Regions from separate parts of the Homo sapiens genome. Here region 2 is linked to region 1. A link means that fine-mapping ties the variant in region 1 to the expression of a gene that starts in the linked region. Tissue or cell type: whole blood. Region 1 holds a variant in brackets; the other region holds the start of a gene. All regions are shown on one strand. Distances are from middle to middle.

What was found. PIP is the estimated chance that this variant, and not a neighbour inherited with it, causes the effect.
Region 2: it holds the start of PLD4, and the variant in region 1 is fine-mapped to the expression of PLD4 in whole blood (TOPMed, PIP above 0.99).

Annotation. Positions count from the first base shown.
Region 1 is chr14:105,027,820-105,035,319 of GRCh38, forward strand. LOC124903398 (a long non-coding RNA gene) reads left to right here and starts at 5,038. Exons shown (of 2, transcript XR_007064368.1): 1 at 5,038-5,371. RefSeq lists an enhancer at 5,791-6,292. The variant G/C (reference allele first, on the strand shown) is at 4,066.
Region 2 is chr14:104,922,481-104,928,873 of GRCh38, forward strand. It overlaps PLD4 (phospholipase D family member 4), which reads left to right and starts at 2,399. Exons shown (of 11, transcript NM_138790.5): 1 at 2,399-2,510; 2 at 4,661-4,750; 3 at 5,193-5,386; 4 at 6,269-6,393. The coding sequence starts at 4,661. RefSeq lists enhancers at 128-177, 2,572-2,741, 2,724-3,233.

The sequences.
Region 1 (7,500 bases):
TTGCACTCCAGCCTGGGCGACAGTGTGAGACTCCATCCCAAAAAAAAAAAAAAAGCCAGAAACCATTATAAAATACTTTTTTAATGATGTCATTTGCAAACCACTGAAAACATCAGCACTAGGGATAAATCTAACATTGAATATGTAAGACCTCTACACAGAAAACTACACAACATTGCCAAGAGAAATCTAAATAAATGGAGGAATAAACCAGGCATATGGATTGGAAGACTTACTCTTGTAAAGATATCAGAGACCTCGAAATTTATCTTCAGATTCAAAGCAATCTCAGTCAAAATACCAACCTTTTATGGGAATTGACAAACTGATTCTCACATTTTTATGGCAATACAAAGTGCCAAAAAGAGCCAAAACAACCTTGAAGAACAAGAAAGTGGTGAGCTGGACAATCACTTTGGAGATGTATGGCAGGATCTGCCAGACCTGAGCACACACCGAGCCTATGACTTAGCACTGCTTGTCAGGATGTGTCCCGTAGAAAGGCATGCATATGTTCACAAAAAGATTTATACAATAAAATTTATAGCAGGGTTACTCATAGTAGCCTGGTGAAAGTTGTCCGATTCAAAACGGGATCACTTGTGACAATCCCCTGGCTACATGGAGCTGGGGAAGGGCATGAAGGGAAGTCTCCCGTGTATGATGTGCGCGATTATAAGAACTATCATGAGATGTTTCCAAACCACAGGTCACTACACAAGTCACACAAGGACAGCTAGCTGCTTATACAAGAACACTTGCCTGACACGTGGCCTCACAAGCCCAATCCAAAACTGCGGGAGCCTAGCCAACTCCCAGACTACACGTCCTACCTAGCAACTACCAACACTTGCCAGTCAGAACTCACCAGCTCAGAGCCAGGCACAGTGGCTCATGCCAGTAATCCCAGCATCCTGAGAGGCTGAAGTGGGAGGATCACTTGAGGCCAGGAGTTCGAGACCAGCCTGGACAACATAGTGAGACCCTGTCTCTATAAAAAAGAATTTAATTTTAAAACTATGAAAAATAAAAACTCACCAGCTCTTATAAGACACTTCCAGCTCCAATATACTTTCTTTCAAAATAACCTGTGTAGCCTACGCTTTCCCTAATAAAACCCTAACCTTTTCCCTTCATTCTTTGGACATACCAGAGACCACCATGGTCTGTCTATATGTCCCAGATTGCAGTCCTACTTCTTACACCCAAATACAACCTTTTATTTAAACTTAGAGATTCAACTCTCTGTTTTTTTTTTTTAACTTCTATTTTTGGGGGGACAGAGGCTCGCTATGTCGCCCATGGTGGAGTGCAATGGTGCGATCTCGGCTCATTGCAACTTCCACCTCCTGGGTTCAAGCAGTTCTTCTGCCTCAGCCTCCTGAGTAGCTGGTGTTACAGGCGTGCGCCACCACACCCAGCTAATTTTTTGTATTTTTAGTAGAGATGGGGTTTCACCATGTTGTCCAGGCTGGTCTCGAATTCCTGACCTTGTGATCCACCCACCTCAGCCTCCCAAAGAGTGCTGGGATTACAGGCGCGAGCCATTCCACCCAGTGAAAGCTCCAACCTGAAAACAACCCAAATGTCCCCAAGAGAATGGACACTGGAGGTGGGTATGTTCAACAGTGGCACACTTGTGAGATGAGACGAGCAAACATTGCTGCACACAAACAAATGGATGGGTCCCACAAGCATAACGTTTCGGGAGAGAAGCCAAACTCAGGAGTAATGGCTGCTTCCACAGATGGAAAGCTCAGATGAGGCAGAGGGCACCGTGCCAGAGAATGGCCCTCAGGCAGCACGGCAGTCTCCCAGGACCTGGAGACCATCACTGTCTTGATCTGAATGGTGGTGTTGAATCTGTTTTGTGTGCTCCCTTTCAGGGCATTCTGTGTTTTGACTTCAATAAATAAGTACATTAAGCCAGGCGGGGTGGCTCACACCTGTAATCCCAGCACTTCAGGAGGTCGAGGTTTGTGGATCACGAGGTCAAGAGATCGAGACCATCCTGGCCAACATGGTAAAACCCTGTTTGTACCAAAAATACAAAAATTACCCGGGCATGGTGGCACATGTCTGTAATCCCAGCTACTTGGGAGGCTGAGGCAGGAGAATCGCTTGAACCTGGGAGGTGGAGGTTGCAGTAAGCTGAGATAGGGCCAGTGCAATCCAGCCTGGCGACAGACAGACACTCCATCTCAAAAAAAAAAAAAAAAAAAAAAAGTACATTAAGTACTATGTATCGTACAATGTATCTATGGCTGGATCCCCAGGGGCTATCTCTGGGTGGTGCCCTGGTGGCTGGGGCTCAGGCCAGGCTAGAAGGTTCCATGTCCGTCTTTTTGTTCCTTTGGAATTACCTCCCATGCATATGTATTACCTAGTCAAGGAAAAAAGGCTTCTGTTTAATTAAAAAAAAATGCATTCAGCTTTTCAGCCTCGCAGCTGAGCCCCTTCACTTGGGAGCAGCCTGGGTGCATTTGTGCACAGTTCAGATTCCAGGCAGGACGCTGCTATGGCCCTACCCACCCCCTCATCACTCATCCTGACTCCTGGGGCCAACCCTGGGGCTGTGGGCTGTTGGGTCTGTGGTAGGGTGGAGACCTTAGGCCCATATGTACCAGGAAGTCCCCAGAGAGCCAGTGAGGAGATGCTCAGGACACTCCTGTCAAGGCAGGCCCTCAGCCTGTGACTAAGCCTCCCAGCCATCTTTTTCTTTTCCTTTATGTTGTTTAATATTTTTGTCACAAAGAGCCATGGTCACTGGCAGAGCTGTCACTATTTAAATGGTAGAAAATGCCCCTTTTGGGGCTGGGCATGGTGGCTCATGCCTGTAATCCTGACATTTTGGGAGGCCAAGGTGGGAGGATCACTTGAGTTCAGGAGTTTGAGACCAGCCTGGGTAACATAGCGAGACCCCGTCTACAAAAAATCAAGAAATTAGCCGGGCGTGGTGTATTGGTTTGCTTTCACACTGCTATAAAGTACTGCCCGAGACTGGGTCATTTATAAAGGAAAGAGATTTAATTGGCTCACAGTTCAACATGGCTGGGGAGGCCTCAGGAAACTTATAATCATGGAGGCCATCAAAGGGGAAGCAAGACACCTTCATAAGGTGGCAGAAAGAAGTGCCGAGCAAAGGGGGAAGAGCCCTTTGCAAACCATCAGATCTCTTGAGAACAAATGCACTACGTGAGAGCAGCATGGGGGCACCGCCACCCCCATGACTCAGTTACCTCCACTTGGTCTCTCCCTTGACACGTGGGGATTATGGGGAGTACAATTCAAGATGAGATTTCGTTGTGGACACAAAGCCTAACTATATCACATGGTGTCGCCTGCCTGTGGTTCCAGCTACTCAAGCTGAAGTGGGAGGATCGCTGGAGCCCAGAAGGTCGAGGCTGCAGTTAAGCTGAGATAGTGCCACTGCACTCCAGTCTGGGTAACAGAGCCAACAGATTGGCTGCAATAACAGAAACTGAAAGGAAAATAAATCTCAGGACCCCAAAATCACTAAGCCAACGGGAAAAGTCAAGCTGGGAACTCCATCAGCAAACCTGCCTCCCATCCTATTCCTAAATAAAATAGCTACAAACATAAAAAAGCTATGTCCTTCCCTCAAAATTTGTCCACAGAAAATTCCTTGTGGACAAAAGACACGCAGAACTCAAGAGTCCTCCCTCTGCTCCGGTGAGACAAACGCACAGCTGATGGCTTCTTTGCCCTATTGTTTCACTAAGCTGGACTAAGGCGTAAGTGACTATTCCTATAAATTGTGTATTCAATTAAAGGCTAATCAGAAACTCAAAAGAATGCAAACTTTTGTCTCTTATTTACCTATCACCTAGAAGCCCCCTTCCCGATTTGAATTGTCCCACCTTTCCAGACCATTGAAACGATTCTCCTGCCTCAGTCTTCTGAGTAGCCGGGACTACAGGCACCCACCACCATGTTCGGGTAATTTTTGTATTTTCAGTAGAAATGGGGTTTCACCATGTTGGCCAGGCTGGTCTGGAACTCCTGACCTCAGGTGATCCACCTGCCTCAGCCTCCCAAAGTGTT[G/C]GGATTACAGGTATGAGCCATGCACCCAGCCTCAGATACGTTTTGGTTTACCAATTTGGTAACCAACAGAAAGGACTCTGAGGCCGGGCGCGGTGGGTCACGCCTGTAATCCCAGCACTTTGGGAGGCCGAGACGGGCGGATCACGAGGTCAGGGGATCGAGACCATCCTGGCTAACACAGTGAAATCCCGTCTCTATTAAAAATACAAAAAAATAAGCCGGGCGTGGTGGCGGGCGCCTGTTGTCCCAGCTACTCGGGAGGCTGAGGCAGGAGAATGGCGTGAACCTGGGAGGTGGCGCTTGCAGTGAGCCAAGATTGCGCCACTGCACTCCAGCCTGGGCGACAGAGCGAGACTCTGTCTCACAAAAAAAAAAAAAAAAAAAAAGACTCTGAGTGGAGGTGACCCTGACCTTCAACAAATCTATCAGTGATTGGTACCAGCTTGAGCTTTCTTTACGGCTCAAACCAATAGGACAATTTGCTGAAGACTGGGAGCTTCCCTCCCTCCAGAGAATCCCAGATCTCCCAAAATTTGGTTGAGATCTACAGTTTATTTTTCTGTGCAACTGTCAGAGGCGTGTGAACCAGAGCAACTCCACCTTGAATAGGGGCTGGGTAAAATGAGGCTGAAACCTACTGGGCTGCATTCCCAGACGGTTAAGGCATTCTAAGTCACAGAATGAGACTAGGAAGTTGGCACAAGATACAGGTCATAAAGACCTTGCTGATTTAAAAACAGGTTGCAGTCAAGAAGCCAGCTAAAACCCACCAAAACCAAGATGACCACAAGAGTGACCTCTGGTCATCCTCACTGCTACACTCCCACCAGCACCATGAGAGTTTACAAATGTCATGGTAACGTCAGGAAGTTACCCTATATGGTCTAAAAAGGGGAGGCATGAATAATACACTCTTGTTTAGCATATCATCAAAAAGTAACCATAAAAACGGGCCATCAGCAGCCCTCAGGCCTGCTCTGTCTACGGAGTAGCCATGCTTTTATTCCTTTACTTTCCTAACAACATTTATTTCCCTTTATGTACTCGCCCTGATTCTTTCTTGTGCGAGATCTAAGAACCCTCTCTTGGGGTCTTGATCGGGACCCCTTTCTTGTAACACAACTCCTTTTTTTGGAGTTTTACTTGCTTCCAACAAGGAAGGCAAGTTTTCCTGCTTCCATGACGGTGGAAGGCAGATAACTCCTTTCCGGAGTTCGAGCCTGCTTTCAACAGGGAAGGCAAATTTGAGTTTTCCCCTGCTTCTAGAATGGAAGATGGCAGTCTTCAGCCTGAGACCCATTCCTAGGTAAGTAGCTTAATTGGGTTTTCGTCTTGGCTAAAGTTATGATTAACAACCAGCTGGTCTCAGTTTCTCTTTACCATTAGAGTGCTCAGTAATCATATTGTTGGGATCTTTTTTAAAAAAATGTTTTCCGGTCTTTCTCCCATTAGATTTGACCCACTCTACCTGCCTTGGTCAAATCCGAATGAGAATTCCAAATTATGGGGAACAAGGACTTTCTGAATTACCTAAAATTCCTCACAGATGCAAAAGAGAAAACCAAAACAAAACCATACTCTCGGTTTCCGCGTTCGCTCCCCGTCGCGCTCTCGGTTTCCGCGTTCGCTCCCCGTCAGGCTCTCGGTTTCCGCGTTCGCTCCCCGTCAGGCTCTCGGTTTCCGCGTTCGCTCCCCGTCAGGCTCTCGGTTTCCGCGTTCGCTCCCGGTCGCGCTCTCGGTTTCCGCGTTCGCTCCCCGTCGCGCTCTCGGTTTCCGCGTTCGCTCCCGGTCGCGCTCTCGGTTTCCATGTTTGCTTCCTGTCTTACTTTTCTTCCACCCTGTTCCTCCTTCCCCTTCACCAACTTCAGTACCAAGAAAAAAATCTAGAGGTGTCTAATGACTCAAATCCTGTAAAGAACTCAGAACAATGGCACCACTCACCCCTTTTGGGGTGTTCTGTTTTCTTGGTGGCGTTTCAAGAGTCATGGACAGGTCCTTCTGGGTCTAAGGCTCTGGCTCCTGCTACATTACCTGTATTCTTTGGCTTTGTGGGGGTACCAGAGATGACCTTGCGCTATGAGAGGATTTGAGCTTGGCGTTTATAATCATGGTGGGCGAGAGCTACAAAGTTAGGGGTGGCTGAGGACAGTTTATAGGAAGTGGTCTTGGCTGGGATTTTTTCCCCCTGGGAAGTTGTTGTTTAGGATCCTAATTCTAGTTCGGAGGTGCATTTTAAAGGGTCTTCTCCATTGCCTTGTATGCACATTTGCATGAGGAACTCAACTGTTGTTTTCATAGGTAAATGAGAGATTGAGTTTCCTCAGCTCCAAAAAGAAAGGACATTTTGCTTTTCCCAGTGGAAAGGTGCTCCTGGGTGAATGGGGGCCAAGCAGGAGTGTCCGGGGGGTTGACCCGCTGCGATGTGCGACGGTCCTACAGGAAACCCCCAACAAAATTAGTTTAAAAGGTTGTCCAGGAAGCGCATGTAAGAGTGGCTCACTCCGCACTTTGAGCCCTTCTGGAGGTACTTAGACGTCCTGAGAGAGAAATTGAGACACTTAGACCTCCGGAGAGAGAAATTGAGACACGTGAGAGGGCAGCAATGACTCGTGGTGACACTGTGAAGTCCCACCCGCAACCAGCACAGTTTGACCCATGACACTTGCTAGGCCACAGGTCACTTCCTCCTTTTGAGAAAAAAATGTGGGAAACAAATCATCTAAGAATGAGGAAAGCCAAGGAAAGCAACGCCTCTTGGGCCCCCGTTTGGTTTTATGATGCCTCTGTTTGCAAGTGTTTGTATAAAATGGAAATATGGTCTTTCTGTGCACAATTACGTCAAGGAAAATGCAGCGCCTGAGGGTCGGCCTGCAACTGTCAAGTTCCTAAGTGGGTTTTTTTTGTTTTTTCTTTTGTTTTGAGACAGTCTCGCTCTGTCACCCAGGCTGTTGTGCTATGGCACCATCTCGGCTCACCGCAACCTCCACCTGTTGGTTTCAAGTGATTCTCCTACCTTAGCCTCCTGAGTAGCTGGGATTACAGGCACCCGCCACCATGCCCAGGCTAATTTTTGTATTTTTTAGTAGAAACGGAGTTTCACCATGTTGGCAAAGCTGGTCTTGAACTCCTGACTTCAGGTCATATGCCTGCCTTGGCCTCCCAAAGTACTGGGATTACAGGCGTGAGCCGCCACAGCCGGCCAAAGTTCCTAAGTTCTCTATCTCTCTGCTGTGTTTTCCCTGCTTTAAGTCTGCTGTTACTTTTCTACTGAGATAAAATCCACTGTTTGCATCCAACCATTTCTTTTTGTTATTGTTTCCGCAAACCAATGAGTTTGTATTAATATCGCATGGCTAGAGTTCTAAAGTAAAAGCTATAGGATTTTTGAGTGTGTATGTGTGTGTTTATGTGTATATACCTGTATTTTGTTATGTG
Region 2 (6,393 bases), 110 kb before region 1:
CGAGGTCAGGAGATTGAGACCATCCTGGCTAACACGGTGAAACCCCGTCTCTACTAAAAATACAAAAAATTAGCTGGGCATGGTGGCGGGCGCCTGTAGTCCCAGCTACTCTGGAGGCTGAGGCAGGAGAATGGCCTGAACCTGGGAGGCGGAGCTTGCAGTGAGCCGAGATGGCGCCACTACACTCCAGCCTGGGCGACAGAGCAAGACTCCATCTCAAAAAAAAAAAAAGTTTTGCTTCATGGGAAATCCCCAAAGTCCCTCCCCACACCCCATGGGACCAAAGGGCCCTAGACCTCAGGGTGGGGCCTGCAGCGCAGGGAGCAGAGCCGGCAAGGAGCTGCCCTCAGGTCGTTCCTGGCCACACAGCCAGCCTCGGAGCCACTGAGAGGCCTGCCCTGGGTCCCGAATCTAGACGCCCCTTCCAGCCTCAATCTTTCTTCCAGGGTAAGCAGCCTGAGAGGCCAAGAGGACAGTCCACCGAACCCTGAGCCCAAGGCCCAGGATTCCTTGCTTAAACATCCCCAAGCCTGGATCCATCCTCCCGAGGTAGAGCTGCCTGAGCTGTACCCAGTCCTGCTGGCCTGAGGGGCAGCCAGGGGAGGTGACGTGGTGCTTTTCTGGGGCTGCAATGAGCTCAGACCCACGGGCTGGGTGTAGCATGTGGGCTCATTGAGGCCCCTCACAATGTGGGGAAATCGGAGAGGGGACTGGCTGGGGCTGGCCCTCCTGCAAGGACTTCTGAGAGTGCTCCAAGGAGCCCTGGGGTCCTCCACTTGCCCCTGGCCTTCCAGGCCCTCACACACCATTGTTGTCCAGACAGAAGAGACTGGGCGCTGTGGTTCACGCCTGTAATCCCAGCACTTTGGGAGGCCGAGGCGGGTGGATCATCTGAGTTCAGGAGTTCGAGACCAGCCTGGCCAACATGGTGAAACCCCGTCTCTAATAAAAAATACAAAAATTAGCCGGGCGTGGTGGCACGTGCCTTAATCCCAGCTACTTGGGAGACAGAGGCAGGAGAATCGTATGAACTCGGGAGGCAGAAGTTGCAGTGAGCCGAGATAAAGCCGTTGCACTCAAACCTGGGGTACAAGAGCGAGACTTCTCTCAAAGGAAAAAGAAAAAAAAAAAGACAGAAGAGAACCTGTTCTGTCTAACTGCCTTTTGCTTGAGTGCAGGGAAGGCAGCCTCCCTTCATACTCATGCCCCAGCCCTGCAAATGTCACAGCAGGACCCACCTGGCTGCCCCTCCCCATACCCAGAGTAACCCTCACCCAGAGTCCCTGGAGGACCCAACCCTCGGGGGCATGCCTGGGGCCCAGCTGCATTCAGGCATCCAGCAACCCAGCCAGAGGGCTGGGGCTCCCCAACCATGGCCGGGAGGTAAGGGCTGAACCCAAGGCCAAATCAGAGCATCAGGAAGGTGAAGAGAGATCTGGGAGGGGCTAGGGAGAGGATGGATCTCTTCCCCATTCACTTCCTGGCCCACCCAGACTGGCCCCAGGGGTGCAGCTGACAGGCCCCACCCTTGGGAACTGCACCCTCCTGACTGGTGTCCTGCAGGCACCCTGAGGCCATCACCCTGGACCCCTGCCCTACATAGGCCTTACAAGGAGGAGCCAGGGTGGACACCCAGACCTCATTGAAAGTAGGAGTGTTCTCAAGGTCCCAGACCTTACTCAGGGACCCCAGTCGGGGGGTGGGGCAGTGGGAGGCAGAGCCCCTTGCTAGGAGCTTCTAGCCAGGCCCACCTTTTCAGATATGCCAGTGAGCAGCCCCAGCTTCGTTCTCCAAGATAAAGACCCTAGTTACCTCCATTGCTCAGCCTCCCTTGCAGCTAAGTGTAGCCATGTGACTAAGTTCTAGATCAAGTTCCAGATCACAGATAAGTGGAAGTGCCCTGTGGGACTTCCAGGAAGTCTCCTCTGGGATGTCCCTTATTCTCTGCTAAGAACACAGAGGCAATGGCTGAGTTCCAGCAGCCACTGTGAGGCCATGAAGGCAGGGATCCTAGGGACTGGGATCTGAGAGCCTGGCTCCCAATGGCAGTGGAGCAATGCCATCATCTCTAGCAAGGCCGTCTCTAGCCTGCCAGCCCCTGGACCTGCTTAGTGTTCGAGAGTAATGAACAACCTTGCTGAAGCCACTGTTCCTTAGGTGTCTGTGGCCTGCAGCTGAACTTGACTCCGATTCGTAGGCCCGCAACTGGAGGGCCTCTACCTCGAGGGAGTGGGGTGTAGATTTTTCCTGGAGGTGAAGGTTCTCAGCCCTACCCTCTAGCCCGCCCACCCAGCTCCAGCCGTCTGTTTCTGTCTCAGATGAGAGGGGGCCTCTCAGGACAAAGAGGAAGTAGCTGGAAGGGGAAGGAGCCAGCTGCAGAGAGGAGGAGGTGAGCTGCAGAGAAGAGGAGGTTGGTGTGGAGCACAGGCAGCACCGAGCCTGCCCCGTGAGCTGAGGGCCTGCAGTCTGCGGCTGGAATCAGGATAGACACCAAGGCAGGACCCCCAGAGGTATGTGCCAATGAGGCCAGGGCAGCTGAGAAAAGCCAGGCATGGGGAAAGGGCTGCTGTCTGCCTCCCTATGGCCTCAGCCTCCCAGCAACCCCAGGTCCAGAGAGTCACACAGCCTCCAGCTAGTCCTGTAGATGACTCGCTCCGTCCCCAGTCCGTGCAGCTGGGATAAGCTGGGCCCTGGCTCTCCAGCCAGGTGACAGCTGGGCCCTCTACCTCAGCCTGGGACTGGCAGCCATGCCTAATGCCCTGCAGGGCAGGAAATCTGGCACCTTCAGCCATGACCTCTGATGTCTGCAGGGTCTTACGCTATCTACCATGGGACCAGGGGGCTACAGCCCTACTCTGCAGGGGTCTCTCAGCTTGAGCCAACCTGGCTGGCGGTCCTCCCAGGTTCCATTGCAGGAGGAGGTGGTGAGGCGCTCTGGGGTCTGTAGTCCTGGGAGGGGACTTGGACAGGCTCCAAGTCTGAGATGGGGCCTGCAAGAGGCAGCGCCTCTGTGCTCTGAGCTGCCCGTCTGCCTGGAGCATTTAAGGGAGCAAAGGTCCTCTCTGGTGAGGGCAGGGAGTGTGGGGAGCAGCTGTCCAAGAACAGCCCTGGCACCTCGTTGCCCAGCCACAGCCCAGGATTCCATGTTTCCTCTCATTGACCAGCCACAGCCCAGGATTCCATGTTTCCTCTTCTGAGAGTTAGTGGGGGAGAGCAAAGGCCCGATGCTGGGCCCTGAATCCCTGGGGACAGTGGGGACACGGTGGGCACCCTGAGGTCTCCTCTGTGGGGTGGGGGGAGCATCCCCCAGAGTTCAGCTCTGGGGTGGGGGCGGCACCCACCCACCTCTGCAGGACCCCCCAGCGTGGGGGGAGTTGGGCCGCAGTGACTTGGCCTGAGTCCCCTGTCCCCACACTTGGTTTATGCTCCTACCCCCAATCCCCCATAACGCTTGGTCTCCAGGGCAGACTCAGTCCAGGCCCGACTCCTGTGGTGTTCCTGGCATTTCCGCCCCATGCTGAGGCAGGCCAGGTTCTCAAAGCCCTCAGCCCTGACCCGTGGGAGGACAGCCCAGACGAACCCCAGAGGCCTGGAGGCTGAGCTGGCTGCTCCTGGGTGGACAGCCGACCCACCGAGCCCTGGGTCCCAGCGCCCAGCCTGGCTGCAGACACTGGCACTCAGCACTGCCCAGGCCCAGGCCCCAAACCTCGGAGACATCCCCATCCCAGCCAGGGGCCAGCCAGCTCCTGCCCTGGTGGATGTCTCAGTCAGAGGCTGGCCAGCCAGGTGACCATGCTGGGCACAGACCCCTCCCTGCACCCGGGGAGGGCGCCTCTGTACTTGTGAGGCACCCTTCCCCCATGGTGGCACCTGGGGCAGCCTGACTGCTTGCTTTGGGGGTAGGAGTGGGGATGGGAGCCCACATCCCACAGGGCCCAGATGGCCTGGCTCCCAGCTCCTTGTGGGGTGACCACTCTGAGGAGATAAGGCGAGTCCCTGCAGCAGAGGACAACCCCCTCTGCCAGCAGTAGGGGTCCCACTCTGCCGCCATCTCTGCCCTCTCCACGCCTAGCCTCTCCAGCAAGGGTACTGCTCAGCTGCCCCCTCTGACCTGTGGCTCTCTGGAGGGGCTGCCGTGGGGCCAAGACAGGAGCCCAGCCCAGGAGGGAAGCAGTTATTTATAGGCCAGCAATAAGAGGACCAAGCGACAAAAGCAGAAACAGCCCTTTCAGACGCAGTTTCAGTTGTGGTTGAAACAGGGAACTGAGATGCAAATACCTAGATACTCACTGAGTGGGAGACCCTGAAAGGGGAGACACAGAAAGCCGGGGCATGTGGCTAGGCACAGACGCCCGCCCGCCCCTCGTGCTTGGCCCAGGCTCAGCCCTGGGGACCGCCTTAACAGCAGTCCTTCCGGCTTGGCCAGGGGGACAGGACAGGTGACATGTGGCCGGCTGCGGGCTCCAACACCCACACGGCTTGTCCTCGTGGAAAGCACACCCCCAACATCCAGGGCGTGACCTCGGGCATGAGTGGGGGGCTTTTGGGGGCTTATGTGGGTGTCTGTGCAGGGGTGTCCCCAGTGCCCAGCTGCCCAGGCACTGAGGGGCAGTTCTGGGCAGAGCTGGAGCTGCTGGTGATGCCAGGCTGCCCTGTGCAGATGCTGAAGCCTCTTTGGAAAGCAGCAGTGGCCCCCACATGGCCATGCTCCATGCCGCCCCGCCGCCCGTGGGACAGAGAGGCTGGCACGGTAGGACTGGGGGGCCCCAGGGGGGAGGTGGCTGGGATCAATGGCCTTTCAAGAGCTCCGAGCCAGAGTGGAGAGGTCACAAGCAGCCTTGAGGGGGCCTCCAAGCAGAGGTGCCCTGACTGGTGGGCAAGGGAAGCCTCCCTGGGCTGCTCCAGACCTTCCCTTTATGCCCCTGCTGGAGGTGCTGGGGACAGCCAGTTACCACGAGCCACAGCATTGCAGAGTGGGCTGCAGGCCCCCTGACCCCTGCCACCACCCTGGGCTGGGGGCCTTCTCTGTATCACCCTCCCCTCTCCCTTGTCCACCCTAGTCCCACCCCAGTGGCAGCCCAGGTCCGGGAAGTCAAGACGGTCTCTGTCTCAGCACTGGAGGGGCCATCGTGGCCCAGCCAGAAGTCAAGCCCCGCCCTGTCTGGTGACCCTGCGGGTGCTGCCCCATCCAGTTGCAGGTCCTGGGAGCGCTGGCTGTGCTGTGGCTGGGCTCCGTGGCTCTTATCTGCCTCCTGTGGCAAGTGCCCCGTCCTCCCACCTGGGGCCAGGTGCAGCCCAAGGACGTGCCCAGGTCCTGGGAGCATGGCTCCAGCCCAGCTTGGGAGCCCCTGGAAGCAGAGGCCAGGCAGCAGAGGGACTCCTGCCAGTAAGTGAGCCCATGGAGGCCTGCGGGGGCAGGTCTCAGTTTGGGGCTGCTGCCTGTGTTTCTGCCCTTGGATCTGCCCGTGAGATAAGGGGGGCCCTCTACCAGCTCCTCCAGGAAGGTGCAGGTCACCAGGGAGGGCCACGACCATATGAGCTGGAGTGGGGGCTGGGGACGGGGCAGGCGTGTGGTGCTTTTTGCAGCAAACAGAGGCTGCCACCTGGGGGCTCTGACAGGCTGGAGAACACTGCCTGTGCTGAGGCTCACCCCCTCAGTCCTTCCACCCCTGGGGGTAATGTCACTGTCCCCTGCCGCCCCTCATCCTTCCCTCCCACCCTTCTTTCCCTGCGGTTGGGGTCCTGGAATCCCAGGACTGCCCCGGAGGAACCTGTTGGGCCATCCTGCACACATCCCCTGGAAACGGGAGCTTACCTGCCCCTGGCCCAACCTTTCCCTTCCAGGCCAGCTCTGGCCACCACCAAGGGCTTCCACACCACGAGGCCACCCCAGACCCCAGACTCCACAGCTCTGCTCTACTCTGCCCGGCTTCAGGAGCAGCTGCTCCCTGTGGGCAGTGCCTCAGGGCTGAGTGGGGCCAGGACCCCCCAGTCTAGCCTGCTCTGGACCAGGCAGCCCCTCTCAGGCTCCTTCCCAAATTGCTCCTGGGTGTCACCACCCCAGCAGCATGCTGGGCTCAGGCCCACCCTGCCCAGTCTGTTTTGTTGCCTATACCTTAAACCCTTACCCTGCACACTTGGCCTGGGCTCATCCCGGGGGCCACCTGAGCAACGGTTGCTCTGGCTTGGCAGTGGGATGGGGCAGGTGATGTGAGGTGGGCTGGGGGCTCCCGCACCCATACTGAGCCCAGTGTGGCTCTCCCCACAGGCTTGTCCTTGTGGAAAGCATCCCCCAGGACCTGCCATCTGCAGCCGGCAGCCCCTCTGCCCAGCCTCTGGGCCAGGCCTGGCTGCAGCTGCTGGACACTGCCCAGGAGAGCGTCCACGTGGCTT